4 linked regions of the Homo sapiens genome follow. The protein of the gene in region 1 purifies or fractionates together with the protein of each later gene. This does not show direct contact. Each region holds a gene or a part of one and is shown in the gene's direction. Other genes may lie near its edges.

Region 1 (5,356 bases):
CCAGGCCTATATAGTATTTTAAAGCAAGCCTCAGCAAACTTTTTCTCAAAGGGCCTGATTATAAATATTTTAAACTGTGTTAATCAAGAGATAAAACTGAGGATATTACATAGGCACTTATATAACAATTTAAAATATAACCATTTTTATTTTACTTACTTATTTATTTATTATTTTATTTTTTGAGACGGAGTCTTGCTCTGTCATCCAGGCTGGAGTGCAGTGGTGCAATGTGATCTTGGCTAACTGCAAGCAACCTCCGCCTCCCGGGTTCAAGCGATTCTCTTGCCTCAGCCTCCCTAGTAGCTGGGATTACAGGCGCACCCATCACGCCTGGCTAATTTTTGTATTTTTAGTAGAGACGGGGTTTTACCATGTTGGCCAGGCTGGTCTCGAACTCCTGACCTCAAGTGATCTGCCCTCCTTGGCCTCCCAAAATGTTGGGATAATGGGCGTGAGCCACTGCACCTGGCCTAAAATATAACCATTTTTAAATGGAAAAAAAACATGATTGGGTCACAGGCTATACAAAAACAGCAGACTAGATTTGGCCCATAGGGTGAAGTTTACTCACCCTTGCTCTGGAGAATCGATTAAGCATTTGCATATTTATGTATCTGTCTCCCCTAGTAGACTATGCACAAGGCCATATATCAGACGTTCTTGTATCCCCAGTGTCTAGATCAGAGTCTGGTGTATAGTAGGCACTCAGTACTAAGTTGTTGGGTAAATGGATAAATGAATGATTGAACAGGACCCTGATCCCTTGAGGAGAATGAAACCAGAATTCTGGATGCCTCATTCCCCACTTTTCTTCATCTGACTTGGTTTCTCAAATGTGCTAGGGTGTCACATGGGTCCCTCTGACTTGAACCATGTCTAAGCCGTGGAGACAAGAAAGGTAGTGCTCCTCTGAAACAAACCCAAGGCTTCTGGGGGTACCTAAAGTTGCTCCTGGAACTTGGTCTTATCTTTTGGCCCTTTGAGGAGTGGCCCAAATGTTCTGATGCTCTGACTCCGTGCCCTAGCAATTCTTGGCAATGATCTTACAGATGAGTTCTGCCATGCAAAGAGGGGAAGAAAACAGAGTTTGGGTTTCAGGAAGGAGAAAGGAAGAGTGAAACCACTCTGAGGTAAGTAGCGGGGGACTTTCAACAGAGAAGCCTAGATTTCACTAGCCGAAGCAAAATGAGTAGGACCGGAGGTGGTGAAGGAAGTGGCTGGGATTGGGTAATGGGGGAGTTTCTTATTCTTTCAGTGGACTATAATAGGATACATAAGAGCAGGATGTCTCCTGCTTGAAGCCTAACTGTCCACCAGAAAGGACTGCTCTTTGGGTGAGTTGAACTTCTTCCATTATAGAAAGAATTGAAGGCTGAGAAACTCAGGTAAGCACTTTTGTTGTGGGTATACTTTTACCTTCTTGGTCTCCTCATCTCCCAGGTGGTAACAAACAGAAATGACTAAAGCCTATATGTGTGTGTAGTGGAAAGGAGCAGAGGGAACTGAATACAGAGAGGATCCTGAATACACGATGCTGAATAGAGAGAGGGGACTCCTGGGGGTCTTTGGGGATGGGGAAGGAATTAAAAAAGTTGGAGGGCACTGGGTTTACTGAGAGCAGCGGGATGGATATAGAAGAGGACTGAGGTTTGGAGCAGAATAAGACTAAGATATTTAGGCAAGAGATATTTAGATAAAAACTTGGGGAAATATTTGAGAATGGGAAAGGACTAAGAGAACCTAAGGAGAGAGTTAGGGATCTTGAGATGAAGAGGCCTGGGAATGGTTCAGGAGGATACTGAATTAAGGTGAGGTCCAGGAACAGTTTAGATGTCCAGGGTCCCAGAACTGTTCAAGAGATCTAAGTTGAATGCTAGGTTCTGATTCCCTCTTCCTCTTCCACCCTCTGCCTCTTTAGCCTCTATCATGTGGAACAGCTCTGACGCCAACTTCTCCTGCTACCATGAGTCTGTGCTGGGCTATCGTTATGTTGCAGTTAGCTGGGGGGTGGTGGTGGCTGTGACAGGCACCGTGGGCAATGTGCTCACCCTACTGGCCTTGGCCATCCAGCCCAAGCTCCGTACCCGATTCAACCTGCTCATAGCCAACCTCACACTGGCTGATCTCCTCTACTGCACGCTCCTTCAGCCCTTCTCTGTGGACACCTACCTCCACCTGCACTGGCGCACCGGTGCCACCTTCTGCAGGGTATTTGGGCTCCTCCTTTTTGCCTCCAATTCTGTCTCCATCCTGACCCTCTGCCTCATCGCACTGGGACGCTACCTCCTCATTGCCCACCCTAAGCTTTTTCCCCAAGTTTTCAGTGCCAAGGGGATAGTGCTGGCACTGGTGAGCACCTGGGTTGTGGGCGTGGCCAGCTTTGCTCCCCTCTGGCCTATTTATATCCTGGTACCTGTAGTCTGCACCTGCAGCTTTGACCGCATCCGAGGCCGGCCTTACACCACCATCCTCATGGGCATCTACTTTGTGCTTGGGCTCAGCAGTGTTGGCATCTTCTATTGCCTCATCCACCGCCAGGTCAAACGAGCAGCACAGGCACTGGACCAATACAAGTTGCGACAGGCAAGCATCCACTCCAACCATGTGGCCAGGACTGATGAGGCCATGCCTGGTCGTTTCCAGGAGCTGGACAGCAGGTTAGCATCAGGAGGACCCAGTGAGGGGATTTCATCTGAGCCAGTCAGTGCTGCCACCACCCAGACCCTGGAAGGGGACTCATCAGAAGTGGGAGACCAGATCAACAGCAAGAGAGCTAAGCAGATGGCAGAGAAAAGCCCTCCAGAAGCATCTGCCAAAGCCCAGCCAATTAAAGGAGCCAGAAGAGCTCCGGATTCTTCATCGGAATTTGGGAAGGTGACTCGAATGTGTTTTGCTGTGTTCCTCTGCTTTGCCCTGAGCTACATCCCCTTCTTGCTGCTCAACATTCTGGATGCCAGAGTCCAGGCTCCCCGGGTGGTCCACATGCTTGCTGCCAACCTCACCTGGCTCAATGGTTGCATCAACCCTGTGCTCTATGCAGCCATGAACCGCCAATTCCGCCAAGCATATGGCTCCATTTTAAAAAGAGGGCCCCGGAGTTTCCATAGGCTCCATTAGAACTGTGACCCTAGTCACCAGAATTCAGGACTGTCTCCTCCAGGACCAAAGTGGCCAGGTAATAGGAGAATAGGTGAAATAACACATGTGGGCATTTTCACAACAATCTCTCCCCAGCCTCCCAAATCAAGTCTCTCCATCACTTGATCAATGTTTCAGCCCTAGACTGCCCAAGGAGTATTATTAATTATTAATAAATGAATTCTGTGCTTTTAATGCTCAGGTGTGGTCTCTGGGGAAGAAGGAAACAGGTCACGGTTAGGCTCAGGGGCCAGGCTAGGAGGAGACCATACTATTCCATCCCTCCTGCATGACGAAATCCTGTCACCATGTGCATGCTCACACATATCCCTAAAGCACCTGTGGCCACCAGGAGCTGGAACCTAATACCTAAGGATTCAGGGGTACCTAGGTCAAAGCAGGAGCAGGAAGCAGCTGGCCTGGGACATAGCCTTTAGAAGAGGGGTTTCTAGGTAATAAAACATGTGAGGTGATTTAAGAGGATTAGCCTGCCTTTTTGTTTAATTTCCCAGAAATGGCCTCTGCCCCTAACCACTGCTGCCAGGATCCGCCATCCCTACAAACAAGTTTATTCAGCTCAAAAAAGTTTTATAATCCAGCTTTGATATCTACTCCAGTGGGACCAGTCCCCCAGCCCTCACTCTGTGCGAAGGGAATGGTCATGGAGGAGGACTCCTTGGTCTGTAGAAATGGAACTGAGCTTAGTTAAGGCAAAGGCAGAAAAAGGTTCCAGCTGCCCTGGCAGGGTCCTGCCCATGGGGCTAATTCACCTGAGTCCCAGGCCCTCAGTTGCCTTGCATTTGTCATCTGGACTTATGAAAGCAAGAGAACAGGCCTGGTGGGGTGTCTCACACTTGTAATCCTAGCACTTTGGGAGGCGGAGGTGGGCAGATCACCTAAGGTCAGGAGTTCAAGACCAGCCTGGCCAACGTGGTGAAACCCCGTCTCTACTAAAATACAAAAATTATGGGCCAGGCACGGTGGCTCATGCCTGTAATCCCAGCACTGTGGGAGGCAGAGGCAGGTGGATCACCTGAGGTCAGGAGTTCGAGACCAGCCTGACCAACACAGAGAAACCCCATCTCTACTAAAAATAGAAAAATTAGCCCGGCATGGTGGCGCATGCCTGTGATCCCAGCTACTCAGAAGGCTGAGGCAGGAGAATCGCTTGAACCCGGGAGGTGGAGGGTACAGTGAGCCGAGATCACGCCATTGCACTCCAGCCTGGGCAACAAGAGTGAAACTCTGTCTCAAAATAATAATAATAAATAAATAAAATAAAATACAAAAATTAACCGGGCATGATGGCGGGTGCCTGTAATCCCAGCTACTCGGGAGGCTGAGACGGGAGAATCGCTTGAACCCAGGAGACAGTGGTTGCAGTGAACCGAGATCGCGCCACTGCACTCCGGCCTGGGTGGCTGAGCGAGACTCTGTCTCAAACAAAAAAAAAAGAAAAGAAAAAGAAAGCAGGAAAACAAAGACTCTAGTTAAAAGGGCTCAGGGGCCAGGCTAGGAAACCATACCATTCCTTCCCTCCAGAATGACCAAATCCTGTCACAATGTGCGTGCTTACACACATCCTTAAAGCACCTGTGGCCACCAGGTGACGCTGGTTCTCTGCGTTTCCTTTCTGGCTTCCCAGTTGAGGACACAAGGCAGGACTGGGAATCCAGAGACCCCTGACCAGGGAGTAGAGACCCAGGGATCTTCACCCTCCCTTTCCCCCAAAGCTTAGGAAGAAAAGTGAAGAATGAGACATTTATTATTCATGAGATATTCCTGTCTACTTGAGGTGGGGCTGGGGGAAGTAGCGGTGTGGGCACTGGGGTGGCACTGGGGATGGAATGTGAGTCATGCTGACCTTAATGCTCTGGCTGCATGTTGTCCCCTCCCTCCCCCAAGTCCATGGTTTGAGAGAACAAAGTAAAATCTGAAGATATTAAGGGCAGAAAGAACCACAGTTGGGGTGGACAGATTGATACCCTCACATGCAACACACTTCTAGGGTCCAGGAATCCTGACTCCTAATATGGAACATGCACTTTTGGTTGTCCTCCTTCCACGAAAGTCACAGGAGCCTAAACCAAATCAAGCTGGGGCTACTAAGGCAGGGGTCCAGGTAAACTGTTGGACCAATGAAGAACAACAGTTTATGGGTGTAGAGACAAAGGTTTCAGTCAAGGCTCTCTCATAGTTAGCTCTCGGAACTTGA
Region 2 (5,020 bases), on another chromosome or scaffold:
TCACTAGCTAACAGCTCAGCTGGGGCAGCAGCCTCCATGGAGGCCTGCAAGTGATGCTCCCAGTCCTGGTTCCCGCTCAGGAGGGAGGCCCCACCACGTGCATCACTGCCTCAGCTCTGCAAAGTCACCAGAGGCTTCTTCCTGATTTTTGTGAAAGATTTATTATATGGCAATAAATCTGAATGATAAACTTTCATTATACTTGCATTAATTTTGAGTATTAGTTTGCTTAGAAATTTTTACACGAAGTAAAAATGTGTAATGATGCAACACAGGATCATCGTGTGTTCAGATGGAAATTGGCATCTGATTTTACCCCAGATCTGAAGCTGTTACTGCATTGTGTCATTTTATCAACAAAGACTTCTGCCACAATATTTACTTTTAAAAGAATTTGTCCCTTTCAATAGCATCTTCCCTATCAAGAGTTCAAGGCACTTTGCAGAAGAGCTTCAGATTTCTAACTCTAGTTCCCACAGTCACCCGTTGAGGCTGGTGTCATACAATCTATGAACAACAACCTTGCAGCAGGACTGCCACCATTCAGCAGTGCAGACAACACAGCTCAAGGACAAAGACAGAGAAAGGAAAGAAGAGAAGGTCCCTGAAGGTGAAGCATAGAAAGTACACTGCACACACAGTTCTCTCTGGAAGGAAAGCACAGGAGCTGGGAAGTAGACGATAGAAAGTGGAAAGGACACAGGACCAGCATCAGAACACTCAGCAACTTCCTAAGAGCTTGCTAAGGTACATCCAAGAGAAATATTTAGTGAGGGAAACTTTTAAGCACTGGAATTGTTAATATATCATACTTTAAGCAACATTTCGTCCTTTAGATTCCGGGAGCCAGGGTTTTGCATTGGGTGGTAGAGCTCTCTGCATAATTGAGTCACCCTGTGCTTTTTTGCAGAGCCATAAATTTTTGGCACTTGCTGATACTTCATAGGCTGGAGTCTCTGCAAGGTCAACCCTTTGGGTCTCTTAATTCTTTCCTAGGCACTATCCTGCAATATCAGTAGTTGCCACTTGATTTTAGGGACTGATTATTAGGCCTTCTGACTCCAAATTCAGAACAATTCCAGTGTCCTACATCACCTCCTGGAGTCAAAGAGGTCAGTTTCTATTCAGTGATGAAGAGCTAAGCTAGCTATGCATATGAAGAACTGAGAAGTAGATTATAACACACAATCCACAGCAAATAATGCATATTTATTTTGTATGAATTAAAGCATAAAATTTAATCTCATTAGCGTATAGCTATTCAGAGTTCCCACTCAAAGCAAGGGAGACTCACCAGTAGCCCCAAGACCCTTGGCCAGGTCATACTCAACCCCTAATCTAACTTCACAAGGCTGTCTAAATGTCAGCTACTCAGACACAGCCTCTGGCATTAGCAAAATCCCCCAGAGGAAAAGCAGCCCCATAGAACTGGACAAGTAATACTTAACTATCTTGTTGACTCTGGGGTCCTTCAAGCAAATTTTAAAAATATTTTTACCAGATTTCCAAGTTGTCCTTAGCTTGAGGGTTGGTCCTCCATTACTGTCATTGGACTATCCCTCATGGGTAGTGCAGTTCAACTTCTAAACCACCTCAGTACCTGAATGTGGTCCGAGGTGAAACCAGATTACTGATGCCTTCAGGTGCCCAATTGAAGCAAATGGCAAATTCTGTGGAGGAAGTAAACATAACCCAAGGCCTCAAATTATTTCTGCAGTGTTGCAATCAGAAATACCCAGGTATGGGAGAAGACCAGACAACATTAATTACTTGAATTAAAACCATTAGAGGAAAACACAGACAATAGAAATATCCAAACAGACTCCAGATAAAGTTGTCGCAGAATTTAAAACAGCTATGGTTACTGTGTTCAAAAAAATGAGACGCATGGTCAAGAATTTCAACAGAGAGTTAGAAACTGTAAAAGGCGCATTGGAAATTCTATAACTAAAGTACTGTAATGAGAAGAACAGTGAACAGGTTTAAGAGCAGATTAGAAATAACTGAAAAGAGAATGAGTAAGATGAAAAATTGAGGGTGAGGGGTGGGAGCAGGAATTATATAGTAAAAAAAACAGAACATGGAGAATAGAGGGTAAGAGACTTAAAGGGTACAGTGAGCATGTCTGACCTGCTCAGACATGCAGGGTAGTTGGCATCTCAAAAGAGTAGAAGAAAGGAATATTTAAACAAATGGCTGAGAACTTTTCCAAAACTCATGAAAGATATCACACCAAAAATTCAAGAATCCCTCCCACAAACTCCAAGTGGGATAAATAAAAACAACCCACACCTAGAAACATCATAGTAAAACTGTTGAAGACCAAAGAAAAATAATATTTTAGACCTGCTGGGGTGGGAGAGGGAATATAACCATTAAAGGAGCAATAATATTAGACTGACAGCTCCTTCTCAGCAGAAACAATGGAAGACAGTGAAATACTGCCTTTTATGGTTCTGAAAGAAAATGACTGCCAACCTAAAAATTTCTAATCAGGGAAAATATCCTGCAAAAATGAAGAGGATATGAAGACATTTTTAGAGAAACAGCTAGAAGAATTAATCAGCACGCCTACCCTAAAGGAAAATTTAAAAGGTGTTTTACAGGCAGAAGGAAAATAATCCCAAACGTAAGGACAGAGCCCTAGGAAAGATTGAAGAGCAATGAAAATGACACATAAATATTGACTACATAAAACAATAATTATGTCTTATGGAGTTTTAAATATATAGAGAAATAAAATGTATGAAAATGAAAGGATTTATGTGGGAATTTTAAGTGTTCTAAGACACTTGGCATCATCCAAGAAGAGAGTAAAAATTCATTTAATATTAGTCTTTGATAACTCATGTATGCATGATAATATTTGAGATATCAATAAAAGTGTATAGCTTTCCACATAATAAGAGAGAATTCGAATAATCAATTCAGTGGAAGATTTAAGAATTGCAAAAGAGTCTAAGAAAGAAGAAAAAGCAGAACAGGTGGAACAAATAGAAAGCAAGATATTTGTGATAAATCCATTATTACACTAAATGTAAATGGACTAATGCTCAAATGTTGACAAATATTGTCAGCCTTGTTTTAAACCATATGCTATTTACAAGAGACATTTTTAGAACATGAATTTAGAAATTTTGGAAGAAAAAGATGGAGAAATACATACCCAGCAAACAGTAACCATGAGGAAACTGGTGTAGATATATTTAAGTAAACTTTAAGGCAATAATTTTTTTAAGAAATAAAAGGGTCAATTCAATTACTAGAAAGATAATCTAAATTTATATGCACTTAAAATATAAACTCAAAATATGTAAAAGAAAATTTGATAGGAAATTTAGACAAATATGCAACCAGAGTGATATTTTAACATGCCTATTTTGTTAATTGGTAGAAAAACTAGCATACAAAAATCAAGTTATAAAAGATTTAAGCAATGAAATGAGCAAACCAAACGGATGTATGTAGGACACCAAACTCAATAACATACTTTTCAAACACAAATGGCACACACTCCAAAATACTGGGCTATAAAGGTTTCAACAGGCTAGGCACAGTGGCTCACATCTGTAATACTAGCACTTTGAGAGGCCAAGTCAGGAAGATCACTTGAGCCCAGGAGTTTGAGACCAGCTTGGGCAACATAATGAGGCCCCACCTTTACAAAAAATAAAAAAATTAACTGGGCATGGTGGCATGTGCCTATAGCCCCAGCTACTTGGGAAGCTGAGGCAGGAGAATCACTTGTGCCCAGGAGGTCGAGGCTGCAGTGAGCTATAATTGCACTACTGCACTCCAGCTTGGGTGACAGAGCAAGACCCTGTCTCAGAAAAAAAGTCTCAACAAACCTGAAAATACTTCAAATGAAATATGTTCTCTGACCATAATAGAATCAAGACTAATTATTTACAAAAAGATAATTTTATAATCCTCATATTTTTGGAAATAGATTTCCAGGTAACCCATCTGTCAGAATCTTAATGGAAATTTGAAATATTTTGAACTGATCATGAAAATACTACATATCAAAACAGAGAAAAAACTTGTGGGATGCAAATAAAACTATGCTTAGAAGACCTTTTAATTTTATTTTAAATTTAAAGAGTACCTGTTCAGGTTTGTTACAAGAATATATTGATGATGCTGAGGTTTGGGCTCCTAATGATCCTGTCACCCAGATAGTGAACATAGTACCCAATAGAAAGTTTTTCAGCACTTGCTTCCCTCTCTCCTTCCCTTCCTCCCTCGTTTTGGAGTCCCTAGTGTCTATTGTTCATATATATATATACACACACATATATATTTAAATGTTTATGTTAGAAAAGAAGAAAGGTTAAAAATCAATTAAGCAATTACCTCAAAAATTTTAAAAACAGCACATGAAACCCAAAAATAAGCCAAATTACTGATATAGAACACAAATATACAATAAAGGGAATCAAAGTCAAAAGTTGGTTATTTAAAAGGATTAAGAGGACTCATTGGCTGGGCATGTTGGCTCACATGTGTAATCCCAGCACTTTGGGAGTCACCTGAGGTCAGGAGTTCAAGACCAGCCTGGCCAACATGATGAAACCCCGTCTCTACTAAAAATACAAAAATTAGCTGGGCGTGGTGGTGGGCATCTGTAGTCCCAGCTACGCAGGAGGCTGAGGCAAGAGAATTGCTTGAACCTGGGAGGTGGAGGGTTCAGTGGGCAGAGATTGTGCCACTGCACTCCAGCCTGGGCAACAGAGCGAGACTCCGTCCCAAAATAAATAAATAAAAGAATTCATAACCCCTTAAAAGACTGATCAAAGAAGGAAGGAGAAAGGGCAGGAGAGAGGAATAGCCAATATCAGAAAGGAAAACAGGTAAGTTACTTCAGATTATGCAGACATTTAAAATATTTAAGAGCCAGCCTGGATAACATGGTGAAACCCTCCTGTCTCTACACACACACACACACAAATTAGCTGAGCATGGTGGTGTGTGCCTGTAGTCCCAGCTACTGGAGAGGCTAAGGTAGGAGGATTACCTG
Region 3 (4,374 bases), on another chromosome or scaffold:
TAGCTGACCTGGCATTTGAGGTATCAGGGAGGAAGCCTCACCCATTCCCTAGTGTCAGCAAAATAATTGCTGACATGCTCTTCAACCTTTTGCTGCAGGCTCTTTTCCTCATTCAGGTGAGACTGACCTTCTGGGCATATGGGCAGCTTTATTAAAAAGAAAAACTGTTTCACTAGAGAGAACTTCACAAAGACAGAGTATTATATTTATACAGAGTATTATATATATGCTGGTGGGAGGTAATGATTTTTAAATCTTTTTTTCCCCACGGAAATGAGAATTTTAAAATTACATTATAAAATTATAAGAAACATGAATTTACCTGCTTTTTTCTGCTACTCTGGTTATTCTCCAGTCCTGCCAGGTGGAAACTTTTTTTCTTTTTATAGTTATGCCTAATTTTTTTTTTTTTTTAAAGAGACAGACGGGTCGGCTGGGCGCAGTAGTTCATGCCTGTGATCCCAGCACTTTGGGAGGCCGAGGTGGGCGGATCACCTAAGGTCAGGCATTTGAGACCAGCCTGGCCAACATGGTGAAACCCCATCTCTACTAAAAATACAAAAATTAGCTGCGCGTGGTGGCAACATGCTTGTAATCCCAGCTACTCGGGAAGCTGAGGCAGGAGAATCGCTTGAACCCAGGAGGCAGAGATTGTAGTGAGCCGAGATCGCGCCATTGCACTCCAGCCTGGGCGACAAGAGCAAAACTGTCTCAAAAATAAATAAATAAATAAAAGACAGGGTCTTATTTTGCCACCTAGGCTGGAGTACAGTGGCACAATCATACCTCACTGCAGCCTCAAACTCTGGGCTCAAGCAATCCTCCTGCCTTAGCCTCCTGAGTAGCTGGGACTACAGGCACATGCCATCATGCTCATTTTAAAAATCTTGTTGTAGAGACAGGGTCTCAGTATGTTGCCCAGTCTGGTCTTTAACTCTTGGCCTCAAGAGATCCTCCCGCCTCATCCTCCCAAACTGTTGGGATTACAGGAATGAGTCACTGTGCCCACCCTGCACTCGGCCTTTTAGAAACTTGAGAAGCAGCTAGGAAGCTATCTCAGACAGTGATTGGAGAGTGACAGGTGAATGGTGCTAGGTTTCCGAGGCTTTGGGATTAAGATTTTCCATATTTGTTCTTCAGGGAATGTTTGTGAGTCTCTTTCCCATCCATCTTGTCGGTCAGCTGGTTAGTCTCCTGCATATGTCCCTTCTCTACTCACTGTACTGCTTTGAATATCGTTGGTTCAATAAAGGTAAGTCCATCTAAAGAAATCCAGAAAATGGAGGCCCAGTTTGGAAATGCTACTGCTAAGCAGACTTCTTAAACTACTCATAGTCAGGCTTTTGGCAAACAATCCTTTGAGGGAAGCAGCCTCATTGGCAAGAGGGAGCTTACCTTCGGCTTAGTGGGTTTAACTCTCAACTTTGAGGCTGGGGGATGTGGTAGTATGGCATTATCTTTTTGGTGCTTAACATGGTATATCTCTGACTGGGTTGTAAGATGGCATAAATGAGCATGAGTTGCTCTAAATTAGAGAAGTCAAATTGATGTCAGCATCTGGATCCTTTTGGGGGTGTTTTAGAAAGACCTTCAGATATTTACCAGGGTGTGCGTGGTTGAAAGAGGTTAACTGATACTTACAGGATGGCATCCTTTTGATTTGCTATCTTGCTTAGTTCCAGACTAATCCTGACAAAGGATGCTGGTGCTGAAATTCTTAATTCACTTAGCCTGTCAGCTTTGAAATTACGATTATAGAATTCTAAGAAACTTTGCATGCTTTATATCAGATTTGTACACTTCTAATTTATATGCTGTAGCTCTGTTCTAAATCTGTACCTAGGCTGGGTGTGGTGGCTCACACCTGTAATCCCAACACTTTGGGAGGCCAAGGTGGGTGGATCGCCTGAGGTCAGGAGTTCAAGACCAGCTTGGCCAATATGGTGAAACCCTGTCTCTACTAAAAATACAAAAATTAGCTGGGCGAGGTGGCAGGCGCCTGTAATCCCAGCTACTTGGGAGGCTGAGGTGGGAGAATCGCTTGAAACCAGGAGGTGGAGGTTGCAGTGAGCTGAGATTGCACCACCGCACTCCCGCCTGGGCATCAAAGCAAGACTCCATCTCAAATAATAATAATAATAATAATAATAATAATAATAAAATCTGTACCTAAAACTCATGGTTTGTCTACCATAGTTACTTAGTCACTTGACTAAAAGGAAATATAATATCTAATTGTATTGGCTTTCTTGTTTTAGGAATTGAAATGCACCAGCGGTTGTCTAACATAGAAAGGAATTGGCCTTACTACTTTGGGTTTGGTTTGCCCTTGGCTTTTCTCACAGCAATGCAGTCCTCATATATTATCAGGTAATTTGGCTACAGGGATTTGAAGGAGACTAGTAAAAATAAAAATTCATGAAGTCAGTGCCTTTTGTTTGCTTCGTTCTGTTTCGCATTCTACATCATCATTTGTCCATCAGGAGACCTGCAGGGTATTTCTACATTTGTTAGCATGAAGATCTAGTCTGAATGTCCCTATATCCCATATTCTTTTTCTATGTTGCCTCCTGAAGCAATTATTCTTTTTTTTTTTTTTTTTTTTTTTTTTTGAGACAGAGTCTCACTCTGTCGCCCAGGCTAGAGTGCAGTGGTGTAATCTCAGCTCACTGCAACCTCCGCCTCCTGGGTTTAACTGATTCTCCTGCCTCAGCCTCCCAAGTAGCTGGGATTACAGGCGCCCACCATCACGCCTAGCTAATTTTTGTGTTTTTAGTAGAGATGGGGTTTCACTATGTTGGCCAGGCTGGTCTTGAACTCCTGACATCGAGTGATCCACCCACCTTGGCCTCCCAAAGTGCTCAGATTATAGACATGAGCTACCATGCCCAGCCCTGCAGCAATGTTAAACATGCCCAGTGCTTAGAAAAATCTTCTGTTCTTTTTGAAAGATGTGTTTGATGGGCTGGGTGCCACGGCTCACGCCTGTAATTCCAGCACTTTGGGAGGCTGAGGTGGGCAGATTACCTGAGGTCAGGAGTTCGAGACCAGCCTGGCCAACATGGTGAAATCCCATCTCTACTGAAAATACAAAAATTAGCCAGGCGTGGTGGCACACACCTGTAATCCCAGCTACTTGGGAGGCTGAGGCAGGAGAATCGCTTGAACACAGGAGGCGGAGGTTGCGGTGAGTTGAGATCTTGCCACTGTACTCCAGCCTGGGCGACAAGAACGCGACTCCATCTCAAAAAAAAAAATGTTTGAAATATTGAGGTTTCATCAAGCCATAATGTTTACACTGGAAGCAAAAGAACTTGGAGCTTCTAATATCTTCTTCAAAGTCATGTCTGTTATGAAGGTGACTAATTATTTCTTTTTTTTTTTTTTAAACAGTGGCTGCCTTTTCTCTATCCTCTTTCCTTTATTCATTATCAGCGCCAATGAAGCAAAGACCCCTGGCAAAGCATAGTAAGTATTAGCCAGTGATGAAATTTTTGCTGTGTAAAGGGTTGGGGCTGTAACACCAGTTATGTCAGTGAGGCTTTTTAAAAAAAAAAATTCTTACTGTAGGAAAATCTTAATATAAGGTTTAATGAGAGAGAAACACTTCTGGGATATAACCCAAACTTTTCTCCATGCATATATGCACATGAGTATATATATATTTCCAAAACCGATCCCATTATACATATTCAAGTAGAGGGCTGTATGACCTGGCCACATGAGTTTATTGATAACAGTAGTAAAATATACTTTAAAATGAGTTTTTAGCAATAATAATAGCATTCTAAAAGTTTTATTACTTCAAAGAAAAGCTCAATTCATCTTTGATCAATTTTGGTTAAGTCAGTGTGGATACTTGTATTAGAGACTTAGGTCTGCTTTGGGTTTTTGTATGCTCTTGCTATACAGCACAGCTCACTGTTTATCTTAAGAGGAATATTTGACTTTCTTTTGAAACTCTTCTTCCTGCAACCACAGATAGCATATGATACCTTCAGACATAGCTTGAAGTCTGTACCCCGAAGTCAGCCATAGAAAAGTACTTCTCAAATCAAAGTTAATCTAAAATATAACTATTTCCTGTAAGAGCCACAATACTTCAACGCTGGTGACTGCATTACATTCATGGCAGCAGCAGGGCCCAATGCATTCTTTTTTTTTTTGAGACGGAGTCTCGCTCTGTCACCCAAGCTGGAGTGCAGTGGCGTGATCTCGGCTCACTGCAACCTCCGCCTACCAGGTTCAAGCGATTCTCCTGCCTCAGCCTCCTGGGTAGCTGGGATTGCAGGCGCATGCTACCATGCCCTGCTAATTTTTTTCTCAAGTGATCCACCTGCTTCAGCCTCCCAAAGTGCTGGGATTACAGGTATG
Region 4 (5,020 bases), on another chromosome or scaffold:
CACAGTTTTCTTATCAGTGATGAAGGGCAGAGTGGATATTTAGTACGTAGTTTATGATGTCATAAAGAAGTGTTACTTCTTTCCCCAGGTTGAACAACTCACCATGGTATTAGAGGCTAATAGAGATAAAACAAAAAGAAGATACCAAGTCAAAACTGTTTGGTTGCTATGGGTACAGTGTCAGTGCTAGCAAAGTTTGTAATTAGCACTTACCTACATTCTTTATACAAGCCCTGAAATCTCTTTTTGAAAAAGTCTGTGTATATGGTGATTGGGATACAGAGGCATTGGTGGAGGGGAGGGGACAGGTGGTGTTGCTGTTAGGTGTTTTGGGAAGCAATAGTTGGCGAGGAAGAAAGTGTATGTTAGAGGAGAGAGGAAGGAATCACGTTTATTGAGTATCTATATGCTGGGCTTAAAAGCCTTTATATTCAGCCGGGCACAGTGGCTCATGCCTGTAATCCCAACACTTTGGGAGGCCGAGGCAGGCGGATCACAAGGTCAAGAGATCGAGACCATCATGGCCAACGTGGTGAAACCCCATCTCTACTAAAGATACAAAAATTAGCTGGGTGTGGTGGCACGCGCCTGTAGTCCCAGCTACTTGGGAGGCTGAGGCAGGAGAATCGCCTGAACCCAGGAAGTAGAGGTTGCAGTGAGCTGAGGTCACGCTACTACACTCCAGCCTGTCAACAGAGTGAGACTCCTTCTAAAAAGCGTTTATGTTCATTATTCATCTAAACCTGACACTGCCTCAGTTAAGAGTTATCCCATTTTACCCAAGAGAAAAGAGAGTCTGTGGGATGTTAAATAACTTAGGTAAGACCTATTCACCCAGGAAGTGGTCAGACTAGAAATTGTACCCAGGCCTATCTGGCTGCTCAGCATCTGCTCTTTCCACTCTACCAGAATATTCATTATTTAACACAAGCTTCTCTCCTTTTTTGCCAAATAGATGATCTGTTACAGACTGTACAGAGCACATCTGGATTAGCTATTATTCTTTTTATTAAGACTATGTTTCACCCGTCTGAAAAGATTCCTCATTTGGTAAGTGCATCTCCTTTTTAGAATTGTACTTTATTGAGAGTTAGGGTATGTTTAAAAAATAATTTTGGCTTGGTGCAGTGGCTCACACTTATAATCCCAACACTTTGGGAGGCCAGGGCAGGAGGGTCACTTGAGGCCAGGAGTTTGAGATTAGCCTGGGGAGTTTAGCTAGACCTTGTCTCTACAAAAAAAAAAAAAGAAAATTTGCTGGGTATGGTGGTGCACAGCTGTAGTCCCAGCTCTTTGAGAGGTTGAGGTAGGAGGATCGCTTGAGCCTAGGAGTTTAAGGCTGCAGTGAGATAAGATTGCACCAGTCTGGGCAACAGAGTGAGACCTTGTCTCTTAAAAAAAAAAAAAATTAAAAATATTTTTAAAGAAGTGAATTAAAATAATTTTTTTTTGCATTGTCTGGTTCCTTCTGATGACCTTTTTCTGTTATAATAAGAGACAATTCCAAAAATTCAGATAAAGCAACAATAACAAAAAGACAATAACAGTCACCTGTAAGTCCATCTCACAAAGATAATCACTATAAACATTTTTGATGTACATTCTTTTAGTTTCTTTTTAGTGCTGTTTGTTCAGTGTCATCTCTCATTAGTATCTTAAAAGATATTTTTAATGTTAAAATTATGCATATCAATGTATAGATATATACACAGTAATAACTTTTCTGATAAATGTATTCTTTATTGAGAATAACCCAAATCATGTGCTTTAGACAGGAAGCATGCTAGATAGAGTCAATTGTTCAGTAAATTTGCTTCTTACAGAAAGTATAATTTGATAATTTAGGCCACAATCCTTGTATTTTTTACTAGTAGATTTCTTTTTTTGCTTGCTATATTGTATGGAAACTTATTTTATCTTTTTACCTGACCTTAGAAAAATATATTATGAGATCACACAAAGTAATTATCTTTGGATAAGTCGAAGATGTTTATTTCTCAAATCACCTCTAAAAGCATTTGTTTAAAAAAAAAATACATACCAAAAAAAAAAAGCAGTTGTTAAGCTTATCCACCTGCAGGTGGCGATGTGTTGTGCTCTGCCAGTACATTCCAACCAGCAAAATCATTCTCGTACTTGATGTAATTTTTTTCCTTTAATACTAATACAATAATCATGACATTTGTGGGTATTTTATCTTTGGATTTAGTCATTTTTCCTAGGATTTTTCAGGGGAAAGAGATGTTTGGGTTTGTATTTTGAAATATCTCTGAAAAGTTTTAAAAGCTTTATGTGTGTTAGCTCTGCTATATTTTTCCAGATTAGCAGTGTGCTGCTTCGTTCAGTGGACTGCACCAGTGTCCCCGAGTGGTTTATGAGCAGCTGCAGGAGCCTCTGTTGTGGTGACATCTCTCAGTCAGCTGTCTTATTCCTCTGTCAGGGGACACTTGCCATGTTGGACTGGCAGAACGGAAGCATGGGTCGGAGTGGGGAGGCCCTGCTCTTGGATACTGCACATGTTTTGTTCACCTTGAGTTCACAGTGAGTTTTGATGCTATCGTCTCATATTTTGTTTCACTTGTAAGACATTTAGAAGATGCAGTCCAAAAGCTGGAGTGGCTTGTGCCTCTAATCCCAGCTACCCTCCCAGTAGGCTGAGGCAAGAGGATCACTTGAGGCCAGGAGTTCAAAACCAGCCTTGGTGACATAGTGAGACTGTGTCTGTACAAAACTTTTAAAACTTAGCTGGGTGTGGTGGCATGCGCCTGTAGTCTCAGCTACGTGGGAGGCTGAGGTGAGAACATTGCTTGAGCCCAGGAGGCCGAGGATGCAGTGAGATATGATTGTGCCACTGCACTCAAGCCTGGGCGACAGAGTGAGATCCTGTCTTAAAAAAATAAATAAATAAAATTATTGCTGCAGGTTAGCCTGTAAAGAACATTTCTAAAATTAATTTTTAACATTTTCAATGTTATCGTTTTTAAAAACTATAAAAATTTTTATATGTATAGTGTTTTAGAATTTATAAAGAACTTCAACATAGGTAATCTAATGTGATCCTCAAATGGCTACTATATAGGATAAGAAATCTAATTTGTTGAATGGGCAAAGGGAGGCTTAGAAAAGTAAATGCTTACCTGAGACCATATTGCTAATAAGAACCTGAAACAGCAATCTTAGAAGGTCTTCTGACTTCATGGGGCTGTATTTTGTATTTTTGTGGTGTTTTTGCCATAATGGCTGAAAGTGATCATGTATATGAAATGTCGAAACATATATACAGCTTGATAATACTGAACATATGAATAAAGGAGGAAAACTAAAATAATTTTTTACATATTTGAGCTATATTATGCAATTCATAAATTTGAAGTGTACAATTCAGTTTATTAGTTTATTCACAGAGTTGTACAACCACCAGCATTTCTAAAATTAATTTTTAATATTCTCTTTGCTATATTTTTTCTTTAAAAATTTTTTTCCTGAAATTTGTTTTTAGCATCATTTTTTAAAACTATAAAAGTTTCTACATGTGTAGTGCTTTAGAATTTATGAAGCACTTTAACATAGGTAATCTAAAGTGATCCTTATCAACATTTCTGAAATGAAGTTTTAACATCTTAAAAGTTAATTCAAACAACTTTAGAATATTTTTATCACAGAGAAGCCCCATTCCCCCAACCATCTCCAACACTTGGCTTTCCTTATCTTTTAAATTACATGTGTAGGCCGGGCATGGTGGCTCAAGCCTGTAATCCCAGGCTTGCAGATCTCAGGCAGGTGGATCACTTGAGGTCAGGAGTTCAAGACCAGCCTGGTCAACATGGTGAAACCCTGTCTCTACTAAAAATACAAAAAATTATCTAGGCATGGGGGCATGCGCCTGTAATCCCAGCTACTGAGGCGGCTGAGGCAGGAGAATCGCTTGAACCTGGGAGGCAGGGGTTGCAGTGAGCCGAGATCGCACCACTGCACTCCAGCCTGGGTGACAGCAAGACCCTGTCTCAAATAAATAAATAAATAAATAACTTGTGTAATCATCACAGTCAAGGTAGTGAATATTTCCATCATCCCCCAAATTTCCCTATGTCCCTTCCTGGACTATTATTATTTTTGAGACAAAGTCTCGCTTTGTCACCCAGGCTGGAGTGTAGTGGCATGAGCACAGCTCATTGCAGTCTCACTCCTGAGCTCAAGCAATCCTCCCACCTCAGCTTCCCAAGTAGCTGGGACTGTAGGTGTGTGTCACCACACCCAGCTAAATTTTTAAATTTTTTATAGAGATGGGGTTTCACTATATTGCCTAGGCTGATCTTGAACTGCTTTCTGGATTATTTTTTACAAGGTAAAAAGAATCATATACAAATTTGAGATCTGTTTTGGCTTTACTTGTAGTTTTTTGTTCTTGTAAATTTAATAATTGAAATTTGTGGTCATTCTGTGTATTTAATATTTTTAAAGTCTAAATTGTTATAAAATGAAATTTCTTTTACTAATCAGTTTACAATAATGGCTCATGGCTCATTTTTCTTCAGGATTAAAGAGCCAACGCTGGAAATGTTTCTGTCTAGAATCTTAGCATCCTGGACTAATTCAGCCATACAAGTCCTTGAATCAAGTTCCCCGAGCCTAACGGACAGCCTGAATGGGAATTCAAGTATAGTTGGGAGACTTTTGGAATATGTCTATACCCATTGGGAACATCCATTGGATGCTCTGAGACACCAAACCAAAATCATGTTCAAAAACCTTCTCCAAATGCACCGGCTCACTGTGGAAGGTGCAGATTTCGTCCCTGATCCTTTCTTTGTGGAATTGACTGAGAGTCTTTTACGATTGGAATGGCATATTAAAGGAAAGTACACGTGCCTTGGTTGTTTGGTAGAGTGCATAGGAGTTGAACATATTTTGGCTATAGATAAAACTATTCCATCTCAAATCTTAGAGGTGATGGGAGACCAGTCATTGGTACCTTATGCAAGTGACCTCTTGGAAACCATGTTTAGAAATCATAAGAGTC

Evidence for each region. Proteins that work in one complex are often made in the same cells at the same time.
Region 2: the proteins of GPR84 (region 1) and DYM purify together in Homo sapiens (affinity purification with mass spectrometry; one large-scale study listed by BioGRID and IntAct). This does not show direct contact.
Region 3: the proteins of GPR84 (region 1) and EI24 purify together in Homo sapiens (affinity purification with mass spectrometry; one large-scale study listed by BioGRID and IntAct). This does not show direct contact.
Region 4: the proteins of GPR84 (region 1) and THADA purify together in Homo sapiens (affinity purification with mass spectrometry; one large-scale study listed by BioGRID and IntAct). This does not show direct contact.

What each region holds. Positions count from the first base shown.
Region 1 is NC_000012.12:54,360,425-54,365,780, reverse strand, and holds GPR84 (G-protein coupled receptor 84), read left to right. Parts: upstream 1-1,294; 5' UTR 1,295-1,388; intron 1,389-1,921; 5' UTR 1,922-1,929; coding exon 1,930-3,120; 3' UTR 3,121-3,336; downstream 3,337-5,356. UniProt on the Homo sapiens protein: G protein-coupled receptor that responds endogenously to dietary fatty acids or nutrient, specifically medium-chain free fatty acid (FFA) with carbon chain lengths of C9 to C14.
Region 2 is NC_000018.10:49,036,650-49,041,669, reverse strand, and holds part of DYM (dymeclin), read left to right. Parts: 3' UTR 1-5,020. UniProt on the Homo sapiens protein: Necessary for correct organization of Golgi apparatus. Involved in bone development.
Region 3 is NC_000011.10:125,578,953-125,583,326, forward strand, and holds part of EI24 (etoposide-induced protein 2.4 homolog), read left to right. Parts: coding exon 1-116; intron 117-1,140; coding exon 1,141-1,252; intron 1,253-2,258; coding exon 2,259-2,370; intron 2,371-3,393; coding exon 3,394-3,468; intron 3,469-4,374. UniProt on the Homo sapiens protein: Acts as a negative growth regulator via p53-mediated apoptosis pathway. Regulates formation of degradative autolysosomes during autophagy.
Region 4 is NC_000002.12:43,574,543-43,579,562, reverse strand, and holds part of THADA (tRNA (32-2'-O)-methyltransferase regulator THADA), read left to right. Parts: intron 1-955; coding exon 956-1,050; intron 1,051-2,320; coding exon 2,321-2,541; intron 2,542-4,535; coding exon 4,536-5,020. UniProt on the Homo sapiens protein: Together with methyltransferase FTSJ1, methylates the 2'-O-ribose of nucleotides at position 32 of the anticodon loop of substrate tRNAs.